2 linked regions of the Homo sapiens genome follow. The protein of the gene in region 2 purifies or fractionates together with the protein of the main gene of each other region. This does not show direct contact. Each region holds a gene or a part of one and is shown on either strand. Other genes may lie near its edges.

Region 1 (11,813 bases), on a different chromosome or scaffold from region 2:
GGCCTCACATGGGAAAGTTGAAAAAAAATTAATGGCTAAGAGAATTCCATTACGCGGCTGATTTTATCCATGCTAATGTGGCTGTCTTTAAGTGCTCACACACACAAACACCAGTCCCTCTCCATGGGTAGTAGCCATTTAAGCTCCTAAGTAAGACAGCCAGTTCCACTTACTTGACTACCTGGGAGGGCAGGCGGCTGGCTGAGGAAGGCTTTTATGGGCTGATTCATTCAGTCACAAATGCCCTGAGTGAATGCCTCTGTGTGGAGAACTGGACTCTCACTGCCAACATGGCATCAACGTGACTCTCCATTAAAAAAAAAAAAAAAGTTTTACAATATCCTTCTCCACATTGTGCCTTTTGAAATCTCAGTCATCCCTCAAGTGCATGGTCAAATGCCCCCACCTTCCACCCTTGCATAAAGCCTCAAATCTCAACCCCAGTCAGAATTAACCACTCCCTCTTTGGTGCTCCTAACGCCCTTTGATCAGACTCCACTGTTTATACCTATGATATTTACATTGTCACAAGAATTATGAACTCTATCCATCTAAAAACACCCAATAACACCAAATGACATAAATGTTAGGCCTTGACAACATATTGATGATAACCAGATGTGAGTTGGGTGGATCACCTGAAGTCAGGAGTTCGAGACCAGCCTGGCCAACATGGCGAAACCTCATCTCTACTAAAAATACAAAAAAATTAGGTTGGCGTGGTGGTGCACACCTGTAATCCCAGCTACTTGGGAGGCTGAGGCCAGAGAATCACTTGAACCCGGGAGGCAGAGGTTGCAGTGAGCCGAGATCGCGCCATTGTACTCCAGCCTGGGTTACAGACCAAGACTATGTCTCAAAAAAAAAAAAAAAAGAAGAAGAAGAAGATAACCAGATGAACAAAAAATAGGCCTCGTGTAAAAGGAGCCCATGACTCAGTGCGGGAGTCAGGCAGACAATATATTAGTTTCAGCAAGCACATCTCATGCAATATAATAGCGACAAGTTCAAAGTAAGCTAAGAGTAGGGAAAGGGGAGAGTGAAAGAGAGACAGAGATTGAGACAGAGAGAGGAGGGATGGCTTGACAGAGAGGGATGCCTTGAGGGCATGTTGTAGAATGAGCAAATATGTACCAGGGAGAGGGAAAATCAGGTTCCGGCAAGAAGGTATGAAACATGGGTATAAAGTTTCAATTATGCAGGATGAAGAAGTTCTAGAGATCTGCTGGATGGCATGATGCTTATGGTTAATACTGTACTGAACACTGAAAATCTGTTAAGAGGGCATATATGTTAAATTGTGTTTTTTTTTACCACAATTTTATTTTTATTATTTTTTTTTGAGACAAAGTCTCACTGTTTTTGCCCAGGCTGGAGTGTAGTGGTGCAATCTCGAATCACTGCAACCTCTGCTTCCCCAGTTCAAGAGATTCTCCTGCCTCAGCCTCCTGAGTAGCTGGGACTAGAGGCGCCCACCACCATGCCTGGCTAATTTTTGTATTTTTAGTAGACATGGGGGTTTCACCATGTTGGCCAGGCTGGTCTCTAACTCCTGACCTCAAGTGATCCTCCAGCCTCGGCCTCCCAAAGTGCTGAGATCACAGGCGTGAGCCACCATGGACCAGCTGTTTTTTACAACAATTTTTTTTTTTAAAAAGCATGAAACAGCATAACCTGTCCAGGAACCTGCAAAGAGACCACTGTTGCTGGAGTTGATGGGGGAAAACGGAGAGGAAAGAGAAGCTGGAGAACAGGATAAGAAGCCAGATCAGAATGGCCTTTGCGACCAATGTTTAGGCTTTTAATTTTCCACGCAATGAGGAGCCACAGAGAAGCAGGATCACAGCTGCATTATGGAGCAGCACCTCAGGTGGCAGTGTGGGAGAGAGATGGGGTAACTGGTAAGCACGGAGGCTGGTAAACTCCGATGCAGTCTAGGTGAGACCAAAAGGCCGGGGCTAGGGAAATGGTACTAGGGCAGGACTGCCTTCTAAAACACTTACTGCTACCTGCTTACTGCTATTTGGTTAGTTAACTTTCTGTTAACTTTCTCAAAATACAAGAGTCTGCTATCTGGAGTTACTTGGCTAGTTAACTTTCTGTTAACTTTCTCAAATTACAAGAGTCAAGACAATGACTCTGTCTTGCTCACAGCTATATTCCCAGTTCTAGAACAGAGTCTTCTATACAGCAGATGCTCAGCAATTACCTGCTAAATCAATGAACAAATCCCTTGAGGGCAGGAACCCTGGCTAACTCACATGTATATATATTCCTCAACACTTTCAGTAGAATGTTATATATGAAGAATGCTCAAAGACATGTGTTTTTTGTTTTGTTTTGTTTTGTTTTGGCACATGCCCTGGATTTTTCCAAATAATGACATCGAATTTTCTTGGTGAAAAGTTCAAAGACTGAATGTTTCCAACCATCAGCTTTGCACAACCCACCTGGGCATCTAGCAATCCAGCTGGGCACTTTCTGCTTTGTAAATCATTGCTGGCAACAAAGCCTGGCAATTATAGAGCTCAGCTGCTGGTTGTGCTAACAATGGTCTGGACAGCCAGCAACACCGTGGCCCTCCTGTGTCTGTGCGACGCATCAACGTGCATCAGGAGGGAAGCAGCCACTGCCAGAGGCAAGTTAGCAGGCTAATGCCTCCTCACACTGCCTCACAACCCATAACCAGTACCTTTGGGGAAAATTTTCCCCACAGAGGAAGGACAAAGGGGTTTAATTTCTCTGTTATATGAAGAACCAGTAAAAGGACAGTTTTATAGCTCTTCTGAGTGGAACAGACCAGGCTCAAATCATGCGCTTGACTGACTCATTGCCATGGTTTACACAGGTCCTTCAACTGCCAGCTTTAAGTCAGATGCCTGCTCACAGGGACTCATCCAACAGTAGGTTGGCTTTAGAAAAGCGTTCTGTACCTCTGAGAAACAGGACCTCGATGAAGTCTTCACTGATGTCAATCAAGAATCCTTTCTGGGGGATTCACACTGTGTTCACTACACAAGGGCATAAGCACAGGCAGGAAACCAAGACTCAGGCCTGGGTACAAATCCTGACCTCCACCTGCCAGCTGTATGACTTCAAGTAAGTGATTTAACCATTCTCAAGTGTTCCCATTTGTAAAATGGGAATAATACCCCCATCTTACAAGGCTCCAAAGGGATTCAATGAGTGAACAGGGTCTCACTCTGTTGCCCAGGCTGGAGTGCAGTGGCACGATCATAATCATTGCTCACTATAGCCTCAAACTCCTGGGCTAAGTGATCCTCCTGTCTCAGCCTCCCAAGTGGCTAGGACTACAGGTGCACATGACCATACCTGGCCAATTTTTTAATTTTTGGAGAGACGGGGTCTCACTATATTGCCCAAGCTGGTCTTTAATTCCTGGGCTCAAGTGATCCTCCTGCCTTCACCTCCCAAAGTGTTGGGATTACAGTCATGAACCACCACGCCCAGCCCCAATATTTAACGAATGCTCGTCCCTTCTGTTACCCCGAGTGGGATTGGAAGGTTGGTGAAAGGCTGCCTTATATGGAGCAGGCCTCATGGGGGTATTACACACAGGGAGAAGAAAGAAGCTCATGGGAGGGAAAGTATGGAAACTGACAGTGGCAGCTTCTGCCTCTTCTATTCTTGAGAAAGTTACACAATGTGAGTGACAGAGGCTGTCCCAAGTACATAAAGGACTAATCTGTTTGCAAAGGGAGGAAATAGCATAGGATGAAGATTGTAAGTTGTTTGAAGCTTCTTTCCTAATTACCACTCATAATGAAAATTTAATTGCCAAGTTAAAAGCAAATTTCACTTTTTCTGTCATAGAATCTCTGCAGAAACTGGCACATTTTGTTTGAACAGGAAATCAAAGTTATTTTAATGCTTAAATGAGATCTAAGGAGCTGCAGATGTTTCACTGGGAATAACAAACTTCAAAATTCTGCTTTACTGGGTTGTAGCAATTCATGGCTACAGGGAGAAAGAAACGCTGTTTTAAGCTGAGTAAACCAAAGCAGTGGGAGGAATTCAAATCCAAGTACCCCAGTGTTAGGCACTCTGGGGACGAGGTGTAGGGAGAGGGTGGTACAGAGAGAAAATTTCTGGCATAGAGGCACTTACAATTGAGTAAGAGAGAGAAAAGCAGGAAATATCCCAAGACTAGGAAACTGAAATTTAAAAATTTTGGGGTCATGGAAGAATAGCGAGAAACAAAACACATACTGTTGCCTCAATTCTGACCCACATGTGCATCAGCTCAGTCAGAAAGACTGCTCACCTGTAAGGTGCTGGTGAGGAAGTTGTCTTGGGAGACAATGTCTACGAAGAAGTCAGCGGGGATCTCACCAAGCTGGTGGTACAGGATGGAGATGAGGTTGATGTAGAGGGTGTGGTGCTTCATCATGGCTGCTTCTGACCGGCACAGGAGGTTCAGGAGCCGCTTCCAATGCTCAAATGCCTCGTACACATTCCCCAGCAGGAAGCACACAAAAGCAAACTGGAGTTCACCTGAAAGGTGCAGAGAGGAGAAGTGATTCTGAGGGAGAGGAGGACCAGCTGACACTCTCCATCACTATTCACAAGGCCATGAATTCCACTGGACCTCAGCAACAGATGAGCTTTTATCCTTGTCACTCCTGCAGAGCCTGGCAGGAGATTTTGCACCTAACAGGTACTCAATAGATGTCTGCTGAACCGCTATGAATTCAAGCCATGGGAAACCAACCTGTGGCTTTGGATTTCTATAAAATCAGACTGCTAGAGAAGAGGTATTCCCAGTATTTGCCTGGCATTTTAAGTTTACAAAATGTGTTCATGGATATTATGCCAAGTGGATTTCAAACCTGGCTGCCCATCAGAATCACTGAGAGTCTGTTAAAAGTAAAGCTACCCAAGCTTCACCCTCAGAGGTTCTGGTGGAGGAGAGATGATGGGGCCTTCGTATCTGTAGCTCTAACAAGCTCCCCAGGTGATTCTAATGTGGATGGTCTGCTCCAGGGTCAGGAAATACTGCACTATACCATGTAACCCTCAGCCCAACTCCACAAGGCGATCAGGAAGATGGTATTTGCCTCATTTCATAGATAAGGTCAAGGGCTTGCCCAAGGCCACACATCTAATGCTTCACAATGTGGGCAACGGAAAGATAAAACAGATTCTCCATTGGGTGGGAACAGTTCTGGAACCTCCCACAAAAGAAAAATTCATGAGTACTTATTCCAGGGTCAGCCTGCCAGGCAGATTATTTTTGTTTGCTTAACCACAGGGCTCTGTGATTTAATCTCTATGAGCAGCTTGGTGGCTAAGAGCATGGGCTCTGGAGCCAAACTGCCTAGCTTCAAATCTTAGCTCTGCCACTTAGCAGCTGTGTGACCTTGGGCAAGTTACTCAATCTATTAAGGCCTCAATTTCCTTATTTGAGGGTTGTAGCAAAGATTACATGAATGGATATAGTACATGTATAGCATTTAGAATAAGACCTGGCACAAAGTAGCACTCAAAAAATATTATGTTCCCAATTTCTATCAGATGCCCATCTCAAACAGAGACCTGATGATCCAGACACCACTGTCCCTGGGCAAGTAACTGGGTCTCTGGTTACCACAGAATACTGCTCCTCATCACAGGCATTCTCTCTACTTCAAAGGTGGCTGGAAATTTAATGAGGTATACATACATGTGGGCCATAAAAAGAAGAGATGTACTCAACACCAAATACCTCTTTAAATGCATGGCGTTTGATCTGTGCCACCTCCAGAGACCTGGAAAAACTAGCTCCCTGTTCCTAAGCATACGGAACTAAGTTTGATTTGTGTGAATAGCTACCTGGTTTAGAAATTTTGGATTTCTGACCAATATTTTCAAATATAGTCAAATTTTCTTTGTATAATATAGGTTAATGATTTGCTTCTTCAGCTGGCTTTACTTGGTTTGTGAAACTAAATATTAGCCTATTATTTGCGTTTAGGACATTTATTAAATTTGTGCATTTCTGACTTTATCTAAAATTAAATTATATTTTTCAAAGAGGTGTGATGTAGATTCAAAATTATCCCTGGACAGGTGCGGTGGCAGGGATAGTCCTAGCCCTTTGAGAGGTCAGTGGAGGAGGATTGCTTGAGTTCAGGAGTTTGAGACAAGCTTGGGCAACACAGGGAGACCCTATCTCAACCAAAAATAATTAGCTGGGCGTGGTGGCACACACCTGAAGTCCCACCTACTTGGGAGGCTGAGGTGGGAGGCTCAGTTGAGCCCAGGAGGTTGAGGCTGCAGTGAGTTGTGATCATGCCACTGTACTCCAGCCCATGTCACAGAGTGAGACCTTGTCTCAAAAAAAAAAAAAAAAAAAAACCAACAAAGTTATTCCTGTAACAGACCTTTTCGCAAGATATATTTTGAAGAATTGAAATGTTTAAGAGGTAGAAAGACAGGATTTCTATTCATTTTTAAGCCAGACTTTTAAAAGTTACTTATTATACGAAAATACTAATGCATTAAGATGTACCTGTTAAAGGCTGGGTGCGGTGGCTCACGCCTGTAATTCCAGCACTTTGGGAGGCTGAGGCAGGTGGATCATGAGGTCAGGAGATCGAGACCATCCTGGCCAACATGGTGAAACCCTGTCTCTACTAAAAATACAAAACAAAATTAGCCGGGCGTGGTGGCGGGCGCCTGTAGTCCCAGCTACTCAGGAGGCTGAGGCAGGAGAATGGCGTGAACCCGGGAGGCGGAGCTTGCAGTGAGCCGAACTCACACCACTGCACTCCAGCCTGGGCGACAGAGCAAGACTCCGTCTCAACAACAACAACAACAACAACAACAACAACAACAACAACAACAAAAGATGTACCTGTTAAAATATAGGTTATATCATTAGCTGAGCCAATGATATAAAAAGTCCTGTCTAGGCACAGTAATCCCAGCACTTTGGGAAGCCGAGGCAGAAGGATCACTTGGGCCCGAGAGGTTGAGGTGGCAGTAAGACATGATTGTGTGACTGACTGTACTCCACCCTGGGCGACACAGCGAAACCCTGTCTCAAAAAAAAAAAAAAAAAAAAAAGAAGTCCTACATTCAAATTTCTCACTGAACTTCCAACAAGAAAATATGCAAATTACCTGGAAAATTTATAAATATATATAAAAATAGCTGTTCAAAATGTGACACATATTTGCTGTCACTAGTATTTAAGAAATAAAGAAATATAAACAAGGTGCCATTTTTCAGCTATCCAATTGGAAGAGGCCTTTGTTAAACTGTCATGCCCAATGCTGTCAAAGGTGATGGGCAACAGGTTCCTACCAGCCAGCAAGGATGCAAAAACCTTCTCCTGGCAACATGCACAGTCTGACCCAGCAATTCTATCCCTAAATGTATGTGTAAGTACACACGAGAATGTTCACTAGATGATATATGTATATATATTTTTGAGACGGCTCTTGTTGCCCAGGCTGGAGTGCAATGGCGAGGTCTTGGTTCACTGCGACCTCTGCCTCCTGGGTTCAAGTGATTCTCCTGCCTCAGCCTCCAGAGTAGCTGGGACTACAGGTGCACACCACCCAGCTAATTTTGTATTTTTAGTACAGATGGGGTTTCACCATGTTGGCCAGGCTGGTCTCGAACTCCTAACCTCAGGTGATCCCCACCGGCCTCAGCCTCCCAAAGTGCTGGGATTACAGGTGTGAGTCACCACACCCGGCCACTTGATGATACAATAGAGAAAACAGGGAGCATCTCAATGGTCCATAACAGAGAACTGGTCCAATAACTATGGAACATGAAACAGCCACTAAAAAAGTGACTGTTAGTGACATGAAAAAACATTTATATTAAGGCAGATTACAAAGTAATAATATACTTCAATCCTGTTTTTATAAAAACTCATATATATACAGACACATATACTGAATTTTTAAGACTGAGAGGAAGTACATAGAAATAAACAGAGAAGACATTGAAATGAAATACATAGAAATACACAGAAAAAAAGGAACGTAAATATACCAAACTGTTTAAATGGTTATTTCTAAGTAGTGAGATTTGAAGTAAATTTTGTTTTTCTTTTATGATTATTATCTATCATTTTTGTAATAAAAGGGAAGGTAACAATAAAAACTGTAATGATTAAAAAAAAAATCACTGTCCTGTTCTAAGCCAGTTGAGAGACCAACATCTTGAGGGTCAGGAGCAAACTGAGCAGGCAGGTGAGAGGCTACAACGAACACAGGTCTGGCCCAGAAACCAAGAGTCCTGGGTTCTCGTCTCAGTTCAGCCACTCAGTGGGCCAAATCTTTTCCTTCTGTAGGACTGGGCTCTATCAGTGGTTCCCAAACAGAAGATTATCTGCACCAGGTTCACCTAGGATGTTTGTTTATTAGACAGATAGAAACTGCGGAAGCCCCACTCCAGATCTCTCAAATCGAAATCTCCAGGGCTAAGGGTAAAGACACACCTGTATCTTCAGCCTCCTAGCCAGGTTTAGTTGCTGCTGGACTAACACAAGATGTACTCCCTATTCCAAAACACCTCTGCTAATATCCTCCCCTTGGCCCACTCCCAAAGAGCCTTGTTCCTTCTCACCAAGCACATCCTGGGGGCTGCTGGGGAACTGCTTGTTGAGCACAGTCTCCAGGGCATAGCTCAGGTCCATGCTGTGCTTGGTTATCTCAGCTGGCGTGGCACCCTCTGGGAACATCTGCGTGGGCAGCTCTGAGAAGCGGATCTCTGTCCCGGCTCTGGGCTTCATCTCTGGTAGCCGGGCCAGGCCCTCTTGGTAGCTTTTGCACTCAATGCCACAGCGGGGTAGATTCTGCCCCACGCGGTCCTTGGTGTGCTTCATGGAGAGCACAGGTAGCACATCGGAAAAGGCACAGATCTGTCGATTCTCGGGCTGTAGCTTCTCCACTGTGGCTTCGCTGATGAAGTTGGTGAGTGAGATCCACTTCTTCAGGGTGGCATATGGGTAAGGCCCCAGGAACTGGTCCAGCTCCTGGAGGTTGGCCCTCATGGCCTCCACCTCAGACTCTGGGGCTGGGGACAGGTCTACCTCTTCCCTGAGTGTGCTCCAGCGCAGCACTGTCAGCCCCCGCTGGTGCAGGCTAAGGAAGAAACCCATACGAGGGCCTACTTCCTTCGGATTAGCCTTGTCCACAGAGCTGTAGTGGAGGAAGTGGATGCCTGGAGGGATCATCTTCACGCCCCGGAACTTGGGCCCGACCTCCCAGGAGTTATAGTCAATCCCAAACTCTGTTCCCTTGGGCATGTTCAGGATGACCACAGTGGCCCCTTCAAAGAAGAGGCGCTTGGCTAGCTCAGGATCCATCTGCACGGCAGCCATGGGGCCAGTGGTGGGTGACCAAAAGAACCCTTTTTCTTTGATGAACAGCTGAGAAAGAAAGAAACCAGAGTTAATCAGAACGTGGGGGAAAGATGCTTCATTTGCTAAGCATTCTGTATGTGCCAGATATTGAGTTAGACCCCTGACATAATTATTTCCCTTAATCCTCATGACAACCCTGCATTGAGTTTACAGATGAGAAAAACGAGGATTAAAGGAAAGGATTTTTGTGTTTTGGCTTAACATGCAAGGACACTCACTTCACAGCTATAAGATACCAGTGAAAGAAAAGTGACATGCTCATGGTCATACCAGGACCCAAATTAGAATCTGGATACCCTGCCTGCAGGCCAGTGTTCTGTCCACCGTCCATTCTTAATATCTTCTCAGATCTCTTTCTCACAACAGAGGGTGAGGGTGGAAAATGCCTGGACAGGTCACTCTAAACTATATGCCTACATCATTTAAAACTACAATTCTGCCAAAAAACTATCCCAAAAGATTTGGAAAGATTAAATCAAGTACATATCCAGTTTCCCATAAGCCTCAGGGAAGGCCCAGAAATGGACAGACGGTAGCAAGTGGAGGCTCAGCATCTAAAGTTTGTTCAGGGTCTAGAGAGCTTTCCTACCACAAATCTCCCCTCTTCTTTCACTCATAAAAAACCTAAACTCCAGGGAGTGAAACAACTTCCCAAAGAGCCCACAATCAGTGGTGGCTCTGGACCATTCATCCAGAATGAATTCAGGTGGTAAAGCTAGCCTAGGAAGAGAAAGCTGGCCAGAAGAGAAAGAGCTTAGTACACTTATTTTACCTACTTCTGAATATCCCAGACATTGCCTCTGGGATATCGGCAAGAATGGTACCAACATGAACAAATGTAAACAAACCATTATGCAACCTTCTAGTCCTAAGATACCTACCTGACTAATTTAACAAATACTCACTGAGTGCCTGCATTGTGCCAGGATCTTTGCCAGGCCCCCAAAAAACATCACAGATTAAGACAGTCACTGCCCTCTAGGCAATTCCAATCTAGCCAAGACGTCAAAATTTCACACACAGAAAAACGAGCTGCCTGTTTAATTGTTTACTTTTTTTTTTTTTTTTTTTGAGACAGGGTCTCGCTCTGTCACCCCAGCTGGAGTGCAGTGGCGTGATCTCGGCTCACTACATCGTCCACCTCCCGGGTTCAAGCAATTCTTGTGCCTCAGCCTCCCAAGCAGCTGAGACTACCGGTGTGTGCCACCACACCTGGCTAAGTTTTGTATTTTTAGTACAGAGAGGGTCTCACCATGTGGCCTAGGCTAGTCTGGAACTCCTGACCTCAGTGATCTGCCCGCCTCGGCCTCCCAAAGTGCTGAGATAACAGGTGTGAGCCACCATGCCTGGCCCTGTTTACCCTTTTTACTTTAAATAAAGCAGTGCAGAAAGGAAGACCAATCCTTTTCCAAAAATAAGAGCACATTTTATCATTGTTACCTCAAAACCACCACAAATGACTCTTACCCTGAATCAGCACTTTGTGTTTCACCAAACTGCAAGTCACAATCCATTAGTGGATTAGGAAATCAATGTGAAGGTCTCAACCAGCATTATTTTTTAAACGAAAATAACAGAATTTTTGAAATATCACAATACATCATGAGTAGTAAAGCTAAGTACTGTTTTCTGGAGCTTTGTGTGTTTGTGTGTATACTTGGTTGTGCCATAAAATGTATTCGTTACTGTAGGTCACAGTCATAAAAGTTTGAAAGACTCTGCTCTAAATAATTCGTATCAACAGGCCGGGCGTGGTGGCTCACGCCTGTAATCACAGCACTTTGGGAGGCCGAGGCGGATGGATAATGAGGTCAGGAGTTTGAGACCAGCCTGGCCAATACTGTGAAACCCCATCTCTACTAAAAATACAAAAAAAATTAGCCGCGCATGGTGGTGTGCGCCAGTAGTCCCAGCTACTTGAGAAGCTGAGGCAGAAGAATTGCTTGAACCTGGGAGGCAGAGGTTGCAGTGAGCTGAGATCACACCACTGCACTCCAGCCTGGGGGTCTGAGCGAATTCCGTCTCAAAATAATAATAATAATAATAATAATAATAATAATAATAATAATAATAATACGTATCATCTTCCTATTTGTAATCCTGAATTCAGAAAGTATTTAATATTTGCTGAATGAACAGATATTCCATTTACAATAACAGCTCATCAATTAGCCATTTTCCCTTGTGACATCTGTGTGCTCCTCCTTGATAATGACGTTTCTTTCATGCTAATTCCACCAGTCTGTAATTCTATTCACTATATCTCCAGCAGCTGGCACAGGGCCTAGCACAGAGGAGATGCTAGGAAAACGTTTATTAAATATGCATAGAACTCTGCAGTCTACCAGCCCCTGTCACTGACAGCTCTGTGAGTTCCTCACAGTCCTGGAACACCTAAAGTCACATCCATCCACTTCTCTCCACCACC
Region 2 (11,989 bases):
AGCTGGGTGTGGTGGTGTGCACCTGTAGTCCCAGGTACTCAGGAGGTTGAGGCTGCAGTGAGCCGTGATCATGCCACTGTACTCTATCCTGGGTGACAGATTAAGACTTATCTCAAAACAATGAAAGAAAAAAAATATGGGAAGACTGGCCTAAGGAGAGGGGAAAGACAGAAGACCTGGCCAGTCTTGACCCCAAGCTCTGAGTCAGACCTGCTTCTATAGGTCTTCTGAGATCCTTTGGTATTATACAATGTTCTCTCTTTGGGGATCAGTAGGTCCACCGTAGCACCCCTATGGCTGAACCTGAAATGAGTCTCTATTTTGTGTGGCCTCCTGTAGAAGCCAACAGGTGTTTCCTGGTGACCTCTACCATTGCCCATCATTTGGCTTGCCATATATTGACATCCTACTTTTAACCACAAATTGGGAATGGGCTCACCTATAGTCTTTCTACTGGAAAGAACAGTTTGAAATGCAATGCCCCAGAATAGAAATGGCCCAGGTAAGATGTGCTCCAGTGCTGACAGGCTGTATTATCCAGGGGCCTGGTAGCATGGGTCAGTTTATTAACCACAGGGACATGCTGCAGATGGCTCCTCTTGATAGGTTCATCACAGGACACTGCACAGCTCCAAGCAGACACCACGCAGGAAAATGGGGAAGATCCCATGGCCAAGGCAGACAAGGGGAGACCAATGCTATAATTTACAGACTAAGGAATTCTTCCTTGCTCCAAAGTCAAAAAGAAGCTAGAGATGCCAGTTTTTCTGCAGAACCTTGAGCAAACTTAAAGTTACCTATGACAAAAGTTCTGGCTCCAACCCCTAAGTCCCTCCACTCAGTCAAATTATGCAGCCATTAAAATATAAGATTGCTGGGCACAGTGGCTCATGCCTGTAATCACAGCACTTTGGGAAGCCAAGGTCGGAGGAATGTTTGAGCCCAGGAGTTTGAGACCAGCCTGGGCAACATGGCAAAACCGTCTCTACAAAAAATACAAAAATTAGCTGGGTGTGGTAGCGCAGGCCTGTGGCTCCAGCTACTTGAGAGGCTGAGGCAGGAGGATCACATGAGCCCAGGTGGAGGCTGCACCGAGCCGTGATCATGCCACTGCACTCCAGCCTGGGCAACAGAGCGAGACGCTGTCTCAAAAAAAGGTACAAGACTAGCAATACAGAAAAATGACAGATACAGAATTTTGTACTCAGAAGGAAATAAACCAGTTCTATTCTACCTACTTTTGGGTTGATGGTAAAATGGGAGATTTTCCTCCTTTGCTATATTTTTTCAAATTTCCCATAATGAGCATAAATTATTTTTTTTCTTTTTTGAGATGGAGTTTCGCTCTTGTCACCCAGGCTTGAGTGCAATGGCGTGATCTCAGCTCACTGCAACCTCTGCCTCCCGGGTTCAAGTGATTCTCCTGCCTCAGCCTCCTGAGTAGCTGGGATTACAGGTACGCACCACCATGCCTGGCCAATTTTTGTATTTTTAGTAGAGACCGGGTTTCACTATGTTGGTCAGGCTGGTCTCAAACTCCTGACCTCATGATCCACCCACCTTGGCCTCCCAAAGTGCTGGCATCACAGGCATGAGCCACCGCGCCCGGCCTATTATTGCTTAAAGAGGCGGTTTTCATTATGTTGCCCAAACTGGCCTTGAACTCCTAGCCTTAGATGATCTTTCTGTTTCAACCTCCTGAGTAGCTGGGACTAAAGGTGTGCACCACTCCTCCTAGCTAGAAGAAAAATAATTATTATTATTTCTGTAGAGATGGAGTCTTGCTATGTTGTTCAGGATGGTCTTGAACTTCAGGCCTCAAGCAATCCTCCTGCCTTAGCCTCCCAAAGTGCTAGGATTATAGGAGTAACCCACCGTACCCTTGCTGAAAATTATTTTGAAGTCTATGTCCATGTGTATTCATTCATTCATTCATTCATTCATTCATTCACTCAGAATCAGGGTCTTGCTCTGTCGCCCAGGCTGGAGGGCAGCAGTATGATCATGGCTCACTGCAGTCTTTAACTCCCGGGCTCAAGTGCTCCTTTCTTGGCCTCCCAAAGTATTGGGATTACAGGTGTGAACTACTGAGCCCAGCCCATATTTTCAGTTTCACTACACACAGCATTTTGTACTGTTAAACATATATATTTTCGCCCACAATCAGTTTTCATGGTTATCAGTTCTAAGGGTCCAGACAGTTGTATGTGTCAACCTCTTGGATATAATTTTTAACCTCCATGTATAGTGTTGCAATGAATGTGCCATTTCCTGCATTTGAAAAGTATCTCACTCATAAGGTTTTTGTGAGGATTAAATGAGTTAAATTAAAAGAAAATATAACAAGTACCTAGCACGCTATTTGACATAATTACTTAGTCAATCAACAGTAGCATTTGTTAATATCATAGCTTAGCTTAGCTGTTTGCTTCTGCTGAATTATCTCCCTAGGATAAATCTTGGAGGTGAGACTACTAGTTAAAAGGAACTGAAGTCCTTTAATTTTTAAATTTCCTATTAAATTTATCTAATAGGAATTTATTTGCTTAAAATGTAAATTGTGTCAATTTAAGGAGAAATTCATTGTAACATAACATAGAAATGCTGTCATTTTTAAATTTCCTTAGAAATTTTTAATTTTAAAATTTTCCTAGATTATGCATGGCTTTAGATCCAAACAATAATAAATTTACATATGTAAAACATGGCTCCCATGCCATCCTGTTTTCCAAAAGGCTTGCATCAATTTTATTCCTACAATTGTGTACGCTTTTAATCATTGCCTTGCCAGCATTGCTATCAACTACTTTTTTCCTGCTAGTCTAGTATGCATAAAACCTCAAGCATGCTTTAAGCTTAAATTCATTTTTCCCCTATAATTACTCTGTGCAAACATTTTTGGTATGTTTAGAGTCGGTATTGCTTTACTGGAAAAATCTCTGTTCATATCGGTCATCAGTTTATCTCCTAGTTTTCTTTATAAAATTAAATTAGCTATTTACTCTTGTTTTTTGAGATGGAGTTTTGCTCTTCTCGCCCAGGCTGGAGTGCAGTGGTGCAATCTTGGCTCACTGCAACCTCTGCCTCCCGCGTTCAGGCGATTCTCCTGCCTCAACCTCCCGAGTAGATGGGATTACAGGCGCCCGCCACCACGCCCGGCTAATTTTTGTATTTTTAGTAGAAATGGGGTTTTGCCATATTGGCCAGGCTGGTCTTGAACTCCTGACCTCAAGTGATCCACCCGCCTCAGCCTCCCAAAGTGCTGGGATTACAGGCATGAGCCACTGTGCCCGGCCTAGTGAACTATTTACTTGATTCAATTCCACGGAGCATTGGTTTACTTTACACATTTTGTAAGTCATGCATTAGTCTGGAATGTTTTGGTGAAAGATGTGGCTATGGACATCATACACAAATTGCTATCCACTTACACTAGCACCAGCTGGACGTGGTGGCTCACGCCTGTAATCCCAGCACTTTGGGAGGCCGATGCGGGTGGATCACCTGAGGTCAGGAGTTCAAGACCAGCCTGGCCAAGGTGGCGAAACCCCGTCTCTACTAAAAATACAAAATTAGCCGGGTGTGGTGGCTCATGCCTGTAATCCCAGCTACTCGCGAGGCTGAGGCATGAGAACTGCTTGAATCCAGGAGGCAGAGGCTGCGGTGAGCCGAGATCGCGCCACTGCACTACAGCCTGGGCGACAAGGGCGAGACTCCATCTCAAACAAAACAAAAACAACAATAAACAATTACACTAGTACCATTTGCTTGTTGCTTGTGGATTCATTTTGAATTATAATTGTTTTAAGTTGCAAAAATAATTAAAATGAGTTCTATAAAAATGTTTATCAAGAGAGGGCATATTGGCTAGGCGCAGCGGCTCATGCCTGTAATCCCAGCACTTTGGGAGGTTGAGGCGGGCGGATCACTGAGGCCAGGAGTTCAAAACCAGACTGGCCAACATAGCGAAACCCCGTCTCTACTAAAAATACAAAAATTAGCTGGGTGTGGTGGCTCACGCTTGTAATCCCAGCTATTTGGGAGGCTGAGGTAGGAGAATTGCTTGAACCCGGGAGTTGGAGGTTGCAGTGAGCCAGCATCATGCCAATGCACTCTAGCCTGGGCAACAGAGTGAGACTCTGACTCAAAAAAAAAAAAAAAAAGAGAGGGCACACTTTATGTTGAGAATTTTCTGGTTTTTTTTTTAGAGACAGTATCTTGCTCTGTTGCTCAAACCAGAGGGCAGTGACTTGATCACAGCTCACTGCAATCTCTAATTCCTGAGTTTAAGTGATCCTCCTGCCCCAGCCTCCCCAGTAGCTAGGACTACAAGCGCGTGCCACAATGCCCAGCTAATTTCCTCTTCCTTTTTGTAGTGACAAGGTCTTGCTTTGTTGCCCAGGCTGGCCTCAAGCGACCCTCCTGCCTCAGCCTCCCAAAGCGCTGGGATTACAGGGAGTATTTTATTTTTTTTTGAGACAGGGTCTCACTCTGTCACCTAGGCTGAAATGCCACTGCCGCACAATCATGGCTCACTGTAGCCTTGACCTCCCCAGGCTCAAGTGATCCTCCCGCCTGGGCCTCCCTACGTGCTAGGATTAGGCGTCAGCTACTGTGCCCAGCCTCAAGGAGAATTTTCCATTTCTGTAGTTTTGCTGCATGTAGTAGACTTTTTTTGGAAGTGATTGCAAATGAAGTTAGCAAATGTAATATAAAGAAAAGCACTGGATTAAATGTGAGAAAACTTGCATTCTAGACCTAAATCTACCTCAAACTTGATATGCTATCCAGGACTATTCCTTTAACCTCTCTTTGATCAATTTTCCTACCTGCTCTATCTCTATTTTGCTCCAGTGATCCCCATCTCAGTCAGGGTGAAAGGCAATGTCCTTGCAAGTACCTAGCAGGCATCCTCCCCTCAAATTCCTTACTGCTCTCCTCTAGCTCACCGGGCTCCAGGCACCTTGCAAGGAGCAAAGAAACGGCTTAAGGGCCTCTTTACTTTCAGGTTCTCTGCCTAGAAGTCCTCTCGATATGTGGAATACCCTGCCATTCACCTTCTGCAAGTCTTCACTCAAATGTCATTTCCTCAGTGACACTCTCACTGAAGTGGCACCACTCTTCCTGCTTTGTCTCCCCGCCTCCTTACATCCCTTATCATCATCTGACACTGAATAGACTTGTTTACTGTTTCTGTCTACCTGCATGTTAGGTCCTCACTGCTGTATCCACAGAATCTAAAAAAATACCTGGCATATCGTAGGCACGTAGTAAACACATGTTGGATGAACAACCAAATCTGTAAAATGAGGCCGTCACGCCGGATGGATCATCCATCCCCTTAAGATGAAACTGTGCTGCGACTGGGCCCAGTCTTCTTGCATTACCATCCTGAGAAGCCCAGCGACCACCTTCAGGGGCATACTCACTTTGCAGGAGCCTGCAGAGGCGGCTTCAGGTTCTCCCTCCTCGTGGACAAGGTCTAACAACTGAAAGCCCGAGTTCCCGGCGGCTTCTGGGTTCCCCGGCGTGTACTCGGACTCCTGGCCGCTCGAGGTGGTCCCCAAGGATCGGCGGCTGGAAAGCACCCGGTAGCGGCCCTCCTGCCGGACCTCCCGAGCCGAGGCGCGGAGATTACGGCGGACACGCTGCTGGCTGTCCCGTGACGGGCGCAGAACTTCCCGCAGGAGAGGCTGGACTGGTTCCTCCTAGGGGGCAACAGGGGACGGAGGCCAGCGTAAGCAGGAGTTCGCGAGCGGGTCAGGGATCGGGTTTCGTACCGGCTGCACCCGAAGATGCCCTCCACACCAGCTGCACCACGCCCAATACCTGGGAGCACACAGTGGCCACCAAGTGGAAGACATTATTCTCCGCCGCTCTCTCCAAACCCTCCGACGTCTTCTGTGCCGCTGACTCGACCGCGTCGCTCCGGAGGCGTTTACAAGCGAGCACAAGAGCCTCCGCCGGCTCCGCACTGCGCTTCCGCTTCACCCGGAGTACAGCGGTCCTGGCGGCCTCCATAGTGGCTGCCGCTGAGCACTGTGGGAGCTCGCGGGGTGTGATGGGATAGCTTTCCAGTTCTGCTTTAGGACCCGCCCCCCAGCACGCTCCTCGACGCTGCGAGGTCCCGCCCCGCGTGCTGGCCGCGGTAAAAGTGGTAGCAGCGGAGGCGAGCGGAGGGTTTCCCGCGGCGGGTGAGGCGCTGGGTATGCTGGGAAGGTGGGGTCGCTTTGGGGTTCTGTGTGCAGCGAGCATGGTGTCCTTGGCACCAGGGTTTCGGCAGAGGAGCCTAGCGTGGGCCTACTTGGACTCCTCCGCGTGGGGCAGCTCGGGACACCCGGGCCTGCAGGAGAGCGGGGTTCTAGGCTGGCCCCGGCTCTGCAGTGCAGCCGGGTGCCTGCCACTCGCGGGGCTCTGTCGCAGTACTCGTGCCTGGCGCCTCCCCTCAGCCACAGAGACCGCAGTAGCTCCAACCATCGCACCCCTAACTGGGCCACGAGTTCTCTGATTGCCAGACCTGTTGTCTTTGCCACTCACTGTTCTGAGTAATTGGAGAGTCGTGTATTCACTACACGCCAACCAGAGTGGTCCTGTAAAAGCGTAAGCCTAGTGTAGATACGCTTCTGCTTAAAACTCTTGAGTGGCTCCCAGTGCTTTTAGAACAAAATCCAAACGCCTTTCCGAAGTCGACAAGGCCCAGCTTGATTGAGCAGAAGATGTGATAGGAGATGAGGAGCGGGGGGCTTCTGCAAAAGTGCTTCGGTCGCTCAGGCTTTTGGCACATTTTGCTTATGCAACCTAGTTCTTTCTACCTTAGGGCCTTTTCTTGGGAAAGTTGGGGTAAGGATTCCTGACCTGTAAAAACTCTTCCCCAACTTTTATCCCGGTCTGTCTTGTAGATCTCAAATGCTAGTTTCCTCAGAGTCCTTCTGTAACCTTGGTTTTCTCTTTCTACAACGCTCTGTGTATTTCTTGCATTCATGTAGTCTGTAATTTGTATTACTCTCTCATTAGAGTCTAAGCTCTTGGAGGGCAAGGGTCTTCTCTAGCTTGTGGTGGTGGCTCCAGTCCCTAATATAGTGCCTGGCACATAGAAGGTATTTAATAAATTTTGTTATTTTATTTTTTCGAGACAGAGTCTCACTCTGCTGCCTAGGCTGAGTGCAGTGGTGTGATCGAGGCGCACTGCAGCCTTGACCTCCTGGGCTCAAGCGATCCTCACCTCGGCCTACCGAGTAGCTGGGACTACAGGCACGCGCCACTACACTCGGGTAATTTTTAATTTTAATATATGTATATTTATATATATATATATATATATATATTTTTTTTTTTAAGACAGGGTCTCACTCTGTCACCCAGGCTGGAGTTCAGTGGCGCCATCTCTGCTCACTGCAACCTCTGCCTCCCGGGCTCAAGTGATTCCCCTACCTCAGCCTCCCGAGTAGCTGGGAGTAACTGGGACTACAGGCACAGGCCACCGCGCCCGGCTAATTTTTTTAAAAATTTTTTGTAGAGAACGGGGTCTCACTATGTTGCGCAGGCTGGTCTGGAACTCCCAGACTCGATATCCTTGCGTCTCGGCCCCTCACAGTGCTGGGATCACAGGTGTGAGCCACCACCGCCTAGCAAATACATTTTGAATGAATGTAGTGGACCATCTGCTCTGCAGTCTGACGGCTAATACAATTAGGGCTTGGCATGGTGGTTTCTATTTCCTCCTTGTAAATGGCCATGCAAGTTTACAACTCTTGGAGAATGAGGAGGGGTTCAGAGAATATCTCCTGAATCTGTAGTGTAGACTGCTTCTGGGAGAGAACAAATAATAATGGATGAGGGCATTCAGCCAGAGAAGGTGTGTAGTGCCCACCAGAAGAGGTTCATGCCTTCATAAAATTGTTAACACAAGACATAGTTCCAGGTTTGTTTGTTTGTTTGAGATACAGTCTTGCTCTGTTGCCCAGGCTGGAGTGCAGTGGCGCGATCTTGGCTCACTGCAACCTCTGCCTCCCAGGTTCAAGCAATTCTCCTGCCTCAGCCTCCCAAGTAGCAGGGATTACAGGCACCTGCCACCATGCTGGCTAATTTTTTGTATTTTTAGTAGAGACGGGGTTTCGCCATGTTGGCCAGGCTGGTCTCGAACTCCTGACCTCAGGTGATCCACCTGCTTTGGTCTCCCAAAGTGCTGGGATTATAGGCGTGAGTCACCGTGCCTGGGCTGTTCCAGGTTTTGAAAAGACACTGTGGTCCTGGTTTTAGACTCAGCAACATCACAGACAAGAAAGGAATCCTATGGATTAAAGTTCTTCACTATAAGTTTTTTTTTTCCTCCAGTTCAAATGGGTAACGTGCCAATGTAGTAAAGGTTTGAGGGAGGCACGTCTGACACAGGCACATGAACACCCAGTCATCACGCTTATGAACTACAAAACGATGACTCTTAACCTTGAAGTGACTTCAGAATTGATTCCACATGGACCACAGGATTAGTATTTCAGGACTCTACCATATGGATCCTATTGATATGTTTGACACCTGGTCCAGTTTTACTTCACTAAACTGATTGATATAATGTGCATGATTGTCTAAGCCTTTCTAATTGGATGAAATGCCTTCTCCGTCCACAACCCCCTCCTTCTCCTCCTGCCTCAGCTGAATCCACCTTTTAAGCCTTCCTTGAACATTCAGTCAGATATGGCCATTTCTTTCTCTACTCCAACATTTGTTGGACACAGTTTTCTAATGCACATTACAGATTCTGACAGTTCTAGATATTCTGTCTGTAAAATAAATGTTAGTACATGAGATAAAGTGGATTATAGCAATGTTGTTAAACTGCTGGTTGCAACCCATTGATGGGTCCTGACCAGCAAGTAAAAGTGCAGCTGGGTGCCGTGGTGCATGCCGGTAGTCTAGCTACTTGGGAGGCTGACGTAGGAGGATCGCTTGAGTCCAGGAGTTTAAGGCTGTAGAGTGTAATGATCATGCCTGTGAATAGCCACTGTGATCCAACCTGGACAGCAGGGAGATCCCATCTCTTAAAAACAATAAAAATGAAATAGAGCATATCAGAGGGCCTTGTTCGTAGGAAGTCAGTATTGTTTTGTGGAACATTTAGTTGTATGCGTACATGCAGGTATGTGTATTGAGTCTCATTTTAAAGTATATTTCTTACTGGGGTTATCAGAAAGTTTGAAAATCATTAGACTAGGGGATAGGTATGCTGAGATTTTAGTAGTAGAGTTTTACCTGGACAAATTGTCTACTTTGAACCTGACTGCCGGCCTGAGTTTGTTCAGGGAAGATTGTTTCTAATCTATTTGCTTTTTGTTTGTTTGTTTTGGTGACGGAGTCTTACTCTGTTGCCCAGGCTGGAGTGCAGTGGTGCGGTCTCAGCTCACTGCAACCTCCGCCTCCTGGATTCAAGTGATTCTCCTGCCTCAGCCTCCTGAGTAGCTGGGAATACAGACGTGCGCCACCATGTCTGGCTAATTTTTGTATTTTTAGTAGAGACGAGGGTTTCGCCATGTTGGCAAGGCTGGTCTTGAACTCCTGACCTCAGGTGATCCGCCTGCCTTGGCCTCCCAAAGTGCTGGGATTACAGGTGTGAGCCACCGTGCCCAGCCTGTTTCTCATCTATTTGTGTAAGAATTCCATGTTTACTTACTCTAGATAACTTCAAAAGAAAAAAAACTCTGGCCAATAAAATGCCATAGGAATGTTTAGGGATATGTGGAGTAGGCATTCTTTCTAAGTTTTCCTGAAGATGCACCAATGTTTAACAAGAAAGGAAGGGCAGTGTAGAACACCTATTGCTTTCTGCATGGTAAGAGGGATGGGTATTGGGAGAGCCCACACCTGCTGAGGAGTGCCTTTAGACTTTGAGCGGTGGTGTTTCTCTCCCTCCCAGAAATAGATCTCTTTGGGGAGACAGGCCATACAAGACGTGAATCTGGTGACATTTTACTTGTTTGAAGCAAAATTTTTTTAGATGATGGAGGGTTTTTAAAAATTGCTTTTAAAATTAAAATTTGAATAGATAAGAAGTAATCACTATAAAAAATAATGAAGCATAAGGAATGCTAGTATTAGCTGGGTGTGGGGCACTCACTTGTAGTCCCAACTACTGGAGAGGCTGAGGCAGGAAGAATGCTTGAGCCCAGGAGTTTGAGTCCAGCCTGGGCAACATAACGAGACCCCATCTTTTAAAAAAAAAAAAAAAGAAAAAGAATGCTAATATCGTGAACATTTATGTTCCCACCACCCAATTTAAGAAAAAGAACAATACTTTTGAAGTCCACTGCGTACCCCTCCTTGATCCCATCTCTTTCCCTTCTCTTTTAGGAGTTAACTATCCTGATTCCTTGCTATGCTTTTTAGTGTGATCCCTGAAGAACGTATCACTCCATTTTGCATAGCTATAAATTTCATAGAAATGGAATCGTATTGCATGTGTTGTGTGATTTGCTGTTTTTGCTCATCATTATATTCCTGGGATTATCCATTTTTAGGTTTATGTGTGACTGTAATTTATTGTTTAGATGAAAGTTTTCCTGGTTTGACTTGCTCTATCTTCATATTTTTCCTTAAGCTAAGGGTTCAGCATACGAAGGCAGTATTGGTGGCACTTCTTTAACAGTACCCCATCTCTTCTCCTAGCCTTGAGGGCTGCACCTAGATGAACTTGTGAGGCTCATTTGAACCTTTTGGAAGCACCGAAGCCTGCTGAAGTTTCCAGACATCTGTATGAATCTGTTGTAGTTTTTTAATGTTATATGCTGAATATAAAACCAAGTAACTCCTGCTGGAAACATTTACAATATCGATTAACAAATACTATCAGTGGCTTTGACATTTTTGTCAGTTTCTTGATTTTTTTCCCCGCTTTTGTCTCCCCTTCCCCCCTCCACATTTTGGGGCATTGTGCTGTTAATAGATTTTTTTTCTGTTCGTTTGTTTATATACCTCCTGTTTCCTTCTGATGTTAATAGATTTCTGACAGTCAGACTTGTCCACAAGAACTCAACTGGCAAGGCTGCTTTTCTGTGCTAAAACTGGGGAGCTAGTGGGCACCATGAAGATCTTCTGCAGTCGGGCCAATCCGACCACGGGGTCTGTGGAGTGGCTGGAGGAGGATGAACACTATGATTACCACCAGGAGATTGCAAGGTACTGGGTTGGTTTACAGCAGGCTGCAGCTGGGTGGGGCACTTGATCTCAAAGCAGATGCCTTGGGCTCCAGTCTGAGCGTGGGCTAGGCTGTCACCCAGTGCTTATGATGAGGGCTGGTGTTGGTCCTGAGCAGGTCTGCTCAGCCAGGTAGGTATATGTAGCAGTTAGGCAAAATCATGCCTGTTTGGAGAGTCAGACATTATGTAGCAGCCTTAGCAGAGCCTCAGCATCTGTTTAACGGAGCAAAGAAAACCCAAGCCTCAGTAGTGTTGATGAAGTTGAATCATTTACTTGCCTTACTGAAATGGTGACATGTTCATCATATGGTTAAATTCTTTTGAATGAAAAAAATGAAAATGGTTTTTTTTTTCCCTTAGAAGAAATATTTAAAAGTATGTGAGTTGTTGGCCAGGCGCAGTGGCTCACGCCTCTAATCCTAGCACTTTGGGAGGCCGAGGTGGCCAGATCACCTGAGGTCAGGAGTTCGAGACCAGCCTGACCAACATGGAGAAACCCCGTTTCTACTAAAAATACAAAATTAGCTGGGCATGGTGGCTCATGCCTGTAATCCCAGCTTACTTGAGAGGCTGAGGCAGGAGAATCACTTGAGCCTGGGAGGCAGAGGTTGTGTTGAGCCGAGATCGAGCCATTGCACTCCAGCCTGGGCAACAAGAGCGAAACTCTGTCTCAAAAAAAAAGTATGTGAGTTGTTATGTAGCAATCATTAAGTGCATTCAGTGTGCCAGCATTGTGCTAAGGCTGTGGATACCAGATGAAGAAGATCCTGTTCTCATCTTCAAGGACCATGCAGTTTTGT

The links.
Region 1: the proteins of SLC7A6OS (region 2) and AAR2 purify together in Homo sapiens (affinity purification with mass spectrometry; 3 studies listed by BioGRID and IntAct, with this or other methods). This does not show direct contact.

Annotation. Positions count from the first base shown.
Region 1 is NC_000020.11:36,237,399-36,249,211, reverse strand, and holds part of AAR2 (protein AAR2 homolog), read right to left. Parts: intron 9,392-11,813; 5' UTR 9,344-9,391; coding exon 8,587-9,343; intron 4,516-8,586; coding exon 4,286-4,515; intron 1-4,285. UniProt on the Homo sapiens protein: Component of the U5 snRNP complex that is required for spliceosome assembly and for pre-mRNA splicing.
Region 2 is NC_000016.10:68,304,906-68,316,894, forward strand, and holds the start of SLC7A6OS (probable RNA polymerase II nuclear localization protein SLC7A6OS), read right to left. Parts: upstream 6,042-11,989; 5' UTR 6,022-6,041; coding exon 5,830-6,021; intron 5,709-5,829; coding exon 5,430-5,708; intron 1-5,429. Other genes in the region: PRMT7 (protein arginine N-methyltransferase 7), read left to right, coding at 11,075-11,169. UniProt on the Homo sapiens protein: Directs RNA polymerase II nuclear import.